Linked DNA regions of Homo sapiens. The protein of the gene in region 2 interacts with the protein of the main gene of each other region in a biochemical or structural test. Each region holds a gene or a part of one and is shown on either strand. Other genes may lie near its edges.

Region 1 (3,500 bases), on a different chromosome or scaffold from region 2:
TGTACGTGAATGTGTGTAGTGTGCATACGTTGCTAACCCTAAATGAGCCTTGAGTACAGAAACTGCACTTTAATTCTGGGGCCCTCTGGATCGTCTCCTTCAGCTGGGATACCTGGAACCTATAGGGTTACACGTCACAAACCAAGAACAACATGTTCATCATTGACCTTATGGTGCAGAAAGTATCTCTTTATCCACTGAACTTAAATGTCAAAACTGATAAAGAAAAACTTTTGGAAGATATTTATGTGGGAACGCACATCCCCCATTGAATGGCTCATTATAGTTGGGCCTTGAACAACCCAGGGGTTAGGGGCGCCAACTCTCACGCAGTTGAAGATTCATGCATAACTTTTGACTCCCCTAAAACTTAACTACTAGTAGTCTATTGTTGATCAGAAGCTTTACTAATAACATGAACAGTCAATTAACACATATTCTGTATGTTATACGTATAATATACTACATTCTTAGAATAGAATAAGTGAATTCAGGCACAGTGGCTTACACCTGTAATCACAACTAATTGGGAGGCTGAGGCAGGGGCATCACTGGAGCCCAGGAATTTAAGACCAGCCTGGATGACACAGCAAGATCCTATCTCTAAATAAATAAATGAATTAAGAAAGTAAGCTAGAGAATAGAGAATGTTATTGAGAAAATCACAGGGAAGAGAAGATATACTTAGAGCACTGCACTGTATTTATTGACACCATAAGTTTACATCATCTGTTTATGAGATGAATGGTCTGAAATGGTGGCAACCACGCTGCAGACCTCAATCTGTGGTGCACAGCAAACAATTCAGCTTTTTGGCAATGCTGTGATATTCCCGCTTCTTGGGGCACTTGCAACATCCCTTGTGGCACTTCGTGTGGGTCCCGGGGTGTTATTCAAGGTTTACGTTACTGGACTCAACACGAAGGAGGGAAGGTACACAAGAACTCTGAGAGATCACTCGTTACCATGCTCTGCAATTTACTGGAGAGAGAAATTGCTTCCACAGGGATGATTAAGACATTTTACTCAGAAACCCATGTCACACTATGTGCTCCAGTTAACCATGGGCAGGAATGATTGAACGCTGCATCTTTACCTTTGTCTATATTCCTCTCCACTGCAGATGGTGCCAAATTGATTGATTTATATTTTACAGGAGTAAATGATGAAATAGACTAGTATCTACATATATTGTATGAATTCACGACATCTCTAACTTTTTCTTAATGTTTTGATATTTTTAAGCTACACAGTTTGTCTTAAGAGGTTTTTACAATTGTTAAATTGTTTTCAAAAAATTTTCCAACATACTTATAGAAAACAATTGGCATACAAATGAGCCCACGCAGTTCAAGCCCATATTGTTCAAAGGTCAATTGTGTTTCTTTCCTATCACTTGCTATATTTGGGCAGCTGTGTATTATAATAGAAGAACACCAGGTTTTGGAGTCAGATAAAATTTGAGGCCTTTCTTTGCCCAGTATTAGCTGTTTGATCTTGAGCAATTCACTCTCTCAGAGCCTCCACTTTTGAGCTGTGAAATGGAATCGTGATAAAAATGTTGTCATAACTTCACATGACAGAGTGGCCAGCATGCAGGGCTCACATCCCGGATTCACATGAGTTCACTACGTGCTTTCATAAAGACACACGTCCTAAGGCAATGCTGAGCCAGGCCGTACATGTCGATTTGATGTCTGCTTTGCAGCTACCTGGCTTCCTGGCAGGGTCAGCTCTGGCAATATCCAGAACAGCATTTCCAGCCACCCCCACGACTGAAGAAAGCCCACCCCCCACCTAGGACTGCAAGACATCATCTTATTATGTTCCCTTTCCTGAAAAAAACAAAAAGGGTTGTATTCTAAAATTACATATTTTTTCTATTTATATTTATTATGAAACAATTATAGCAACAATAAAGGGAATTTAAAAGATAAACTTATTACTATGTTTTGTCATCTGATTTTTAAAAATATGTCAATAATTATTAATATAACCTTAATAATAGGACAATAATTAATATTCTCTTTCATGCAATGTGAATTTGTACATATAACTGTATAAATTTATAGTAGAATTACTTAAAATATGTTGTAAGATTTTAAAATATTTCTCAATGGTCTTTTGATTATTCTTCAAATATCATTAATTTAAGGAATATCCTTAAACATTCTCATACATATAGCTCTTTGATTCCTCTGAACTCAGTGTTGTAATGGACTCTTCTTTAGATTCAATTCTGAGGAGTGAGACTGCTTGATCAAGCAAGGGATTGTTTTTCCACTGTTTAGCCTCACAAAGAATGTGTTGTAAGTTCTACAAAAGGAAAATTAATTATTCATATATAGCTCATTTCCCCAGATAGTTCCTGTAGCTCCTTTAAAAACAATCACTCAGACCTTGTGGATCGCAGTGTGTTGATACGACTGGAAACCCTGAGCACTGAAGTTCAAGGTCAGCGGCTTGCCGTCAACAGTCAGTCAGCGGCTGGCTAGGCCATCGGGTTTCCTCGTCTGGACCGAGCCTTCGGGTTTCGTCGTCTGGACCGAGCCTTCCGGTTACCTCGTCTGCACGGAGCCTTCGGGTTGCCTCGTCTGCACGGAGCCTTCCGGTTGCCTCGTCTGGACGGAGCCTTCCGGTTGCCTCGTCTGGACGGAGCCTTCCGGTTGCCTCGTCTGGACTGAGCCTTCCGGTTACTACGTCTGGACTGAGCCTTTGGGTTTCCTCGTCTGGACTGAGCCTTTGGGTTTCCTCGTCTGGACTGAGACTTGACCCGGCTTCTTCCCACCTCTGGGACCTGGAACTCCCTATCTTTAGAGCATTTGCTTTAGAAAATGTATTATTGTATGTTCTTTCTCTGCCATTTGATACCTGAATCTTTCTAGAAGTCTCTTGCTGGCTGTACAACCCAGGACTGTCTTTCTCAAGGAGCTGGGAGCTGTCCCTTCAAAATGTGATCACTGGCAAGATGGCGTCATCTCCTGTCCCTGTGGAAGGATGGAGCCCAGCCTTGGTGGGTGCTTGGCTCTAAGCTGTGCAACCACCTCCTGTCATGAAGATGGGGGAAGCTCTCTGTTTCTTTGCAGGAGGCCAATTAACAGACAATGATGGCCCTAATCTCCTTCCCATCCCAACTTGTAGAAACCCTCTCATCCTTTGTTTCAGTGGAGTTGAATCTCTGAATCTCTCTCTCTCTCCTATCATAATAGACTTGAATAAGGTCTTCTTGCCTTCTTCGCCTTTAACTCTGGTGCAGTTTTGTCCTGACATGGCTTTAGGAAAATCATTTAGGAATTCTTCCTCTCAGTGTTGATATTATCCAAACAGGACTACCCCGAAGATCCGTGGAGAACACGTTCTAGAACTCTTAACGGCCACTCGCGACAGGCTCCCGGAACACCACTGCTTCTAGCACGTGGAATAGAGCGGGATTCGGGATGAGCTTTGCAGCCACGTGAGTCTGGGCCCCATCCCTGTCTCTGCTTGGCTTCTGGAAAGTC
Region 2 (3,500 bases):
AGTGAAGATTCATGACTTCTACTCCCCTCCAACCTCAGACACTGGCAGTCTGTGCTCCCAGGACACTTGAGTGTCCTCCATTTGCCACCAGCCCTGAGACTGTTTATGTGCTTGGCTATTCCTTCACTAGGCTATAAAGGCAGAGACTGCCTTTCATCACTGACTCCCAGCGACTCCTCCTCAAACAGTGCCCCGCATTTGGCATGCGCTTAAACATACATGACAGAATGCAACGGATAATCACACATGATGTGGGAATTCTATCCAAGCAGGAACGTATTTGTAACACAAATGAACCTATAGCATTAATGAAGGTGTTTTTTTTTTTTTTTAAACAGACTGTAACTTCTTATGTCACTGTAAATTTGTTCAGTTTTAACGCCTTATGTGTTTGTAGAACAGAGTTGTGGGATCAAATCTGTCTCATATTCATCAGAAACTGCAACATGGCACATCTGTAAGAAACTGTATCTGGGGTCAACAACTCACTACATACCCAGCTCACGAGAATGTGACCAATCTGCTCCACTGTTCCATCAGGCTTGGTTGCTTCTCCTATTCTTGTCAACAAATCTGAAGTGATAAAAAAGCATAAACACCATTAACAGGTTTATTTAAAAAATAGGTCAGCACTACATTAGAAGTTTAGACTGAAAATTACATGCACCGCTGCTCTTTAGATTTAATGACAATTAAGTGGCACATCTAACCTTCATGCAGAGGTATGTAAGAGTCCAGATCACCAAATATATGTGTGAGTTCCTCTTCTGACATGATGGACAACTTTAACATGGGGTCATGATAGGCCTGTCAGAGGGGAGAAATGTGTCACAGAGAGATCATGTGAGGAAAACATGAGGGATCTATACTTGGAAACAAAGAGAATTAATTACATAAAAGCTAGCGTGGATTCTGTTTGCTACACATAAAATAAATTAGTATGTATTAATCCCCAAATAAACTCTCTTACTAATACTTGTATTTGAGGATGTGTCTAGACCTCACCTAAAAAAAATGTATTCACCAGTAGATATTTTCTATTCTTCTACTTCTAAAGGTTAAGAAAACTATCCTTTAGATTTTGTGAAATGTAATTTTTAAAAACTAGGGCATCTGATAAAAAGTTATTTACTGACCTTTCTTGCAAGTTTGAGATCCTCAATTAAATCCTGTTCACCTCGGGACATTTCATATATTGCCTAAAAACATCCAGCAAACATCAGAGGTCATTCCTTCGAGAAAGGAAAATTATATACAACTGATAATTACATTATTTGATGTTTTGAACGGCATTTTAAAAAGTAACTCAGTCTGAAAATTGTAATTCAGAATGGAATCTCAAATACAAGGTTGCCGTATGTTTGGTAAGTTTACCCTATTAGAGTTGTTTAATTTGACCACCATCCATCATTAGGTTTTGTTCACCATGTATTAGGAATTGTTGCTCAAACACAAAAATCCAAGTTAATTTTGCCATCGGCATCAATTTGCTGTTCTTTTGGGAAAACATGTACACTGAGTGCCAGCATACCTCCTGCCGTCTGATCTCCCTGGTGGTGAGAGACTCCTTCATGGTGATGTCCAGCATCTCTGACCACAGTGCACTGCTCCTTCTCTTGGCGGGTGTTGGGACTGTTGACCTGCTAGAAAACTTCTGGGCAGAGGCTGGGGATCTGTGGTCACCACGAAGGGTAAATGACTTAAAAAAGAAAAGGTGAACAAAAGAGAAAATAAGATTTGGAAGAAATAGAATTATTCCCATTTTCTTTTTTTTTAAAGTGAAGAAAGACAAAGTTCTGAGAATTTCTCAATGCAGAAAACAATAATTTATCCAAGTTTCCACCTACCAATCTTAAATATTTATCAGCTAAAATTACATTTTTGGGAATAAAAACTAGCCAAGACTATGCATTATAAGATGCAAATTAATATAAGATGCAAATTAATATAATGAGGCTACACATTGTTCTGGAACAATATTCCTTACTAGCATATTCCAAAAAGAAAACTATGTTTAAATATAATAATGCAAACTTGTTTGTACAGCTCAAAGACAACTACAAATTCCAGGCTTCTATAAAGTCCGCTGACTACATTACTCTTCCTCCTCTCTTTTTACCTGTATTGTTTGACCAAAACGTCTGACAGCTCCATTTCTTACAGGAGAGATTAAATTTGCCAAGGACGTGACACGAGCCAGAGGTCGAACTCTTTTATTGCTTGGCTCCTATAAAAACAAACCAGATGACACTAAATATATGTCTAGGTGCAATGATTTCATACAAACTTGGACAAAGTAAAGCCCTCTCACAAAACAATTTTTGTACATTATAAAATACAGAAACATGAAAGTAAGAGTTGTTCTTCATTGTCAAAACAATAAGAACTCTATTGAGTAGCAGTAACTTTTCAAAAAATAAGTGTGTAAGAAAGGCCAGTCAAATATTTCCAATAGGGGAAAAAATTAAAATTCAAACAAGGAAATTACATCCTAAAATCTAATGAACTTTTCAGTTTAATGCAGGGAATAACTTTTTTTTTTTTTAAAAAAAAGCCTTATTGTTATGAAAATTTTCGAACATACATGAAAGTGGAGAATGGCATAATGGATCCCATGTGTCTATCGAGGGGCCTCCACAGTGTCTGGTATAACAATTTGTTTCATTTTTGTCCCTACTTAAATGTTTTAAAGCAAATCTCAGACATTGTATCATTTCATTCTTAACTACTTCCGTTAGAAAATACAACCTTTCAATCAACATGTCTGACACTGGAATGGGCTGAAAAATATTGAAGCCAAGGCAGGGAGGAGTTAAAAGAGCACCCAGGCTCTGAAATCTGACTGGGCACAAATCCCGGCTCTACCACTTGCTAGGGCACACCCTTGGCATCAGTTTTCTCATCTATAAAATGGGGCTAAAAGTAGCACTTCTCTTATGAAGTTGTTGTGAAGATTAAATGAATAATATGGCTTGAAACAGTGCCTGGCACATACTCAGTTTGAGCTATTACTAACAGATTTTAGGAATATTTCCATTTACTACATAAACACTGGGATTCATAGATAAATTAGATCCTCTCTCAAACAGTAATTTATTAACTTAAAGGAAAGATATATACAAATCGAGAAGAAATAGTTATGATTCTACATGTTATTGCTTTTAAATAATAATATAGCAAACACATCACTTATTCAAGGATTTTGAAACTTTACAAAAATTGCATTATTCTAATTTTATCGCTAGAAAAATGGAGGCATACCAGTAGGTGACTCACACAGTTACTGAAATGAAGAATGCCAGATCATAAAACTAGCAGGTCTATTCTTTATGTCTATGGAGCATAACTATTTGTATTTTGTGCTTCTGACAATTGTGGCATACTTGACAAAATAATTTTGATGAGAATCCAGGAGGATATATAATTTAAAATTATATTAAAATTATCACTGAAAAATAAGACATCATTTAAAAATAACAGAAGAAGCAACTTTTTCTAAA

The links. The genes of interacting proteins can lie anywhere in the genome.
Region 1: the proteins of NET1 (region 2) and SNTG2 interact in a biophysical measurement, tested with the Homo sapiens proteins (one large-scale study listed by IntAct).

The regions. Positions count from the first base shown.
Region 1 is NC_000002.12:1,261,849-1,265,348, reverse strand, and holds part of SNTG2 (gamma-2-syntrophin), read right to left. Parts: intron 3,455-3,500; exon of another isoform or gene 3,328-3,454; intron 3,014-3,327; exon of another isoform or gene 2,931-3,013; intron 1-2,930. UniProt on the Homo sapiens protein: Adapter protein that binds to and probably organizes the subcellular localization of a variety of proteins. May link various receptors to the actin cytoskeleton and the dystrophin glycoprotein complex.
Region 2 is NC_000010.11:5,450,557-5,454,056, reverse strand, and holds part of NET1 (neuroepithelial cell-transforming gene 1 protein), read right to left. Parts: intron 2,228-3,500; coding exon 2,120-2,227; intron 1,700-2,119; coding exon 1,532-1,699; intron 1,233-1,531; exon of another isoform or gene 1,200-1,232; coding exon 1,137-1,199; intron 808-1,136; coding exon 711-807; intron 574-710; coding exon 497-573; intron 1-496. UniProt on the Homo sapiens protein: Acts as a guanine nucleotide exchange factor (GEF) for RhoA GTPase. May be involved in activation of the SAPK/JNK pathway Stimulates genotoxic stress-induced RHOB activity in breast cancer cells leading to their cell death.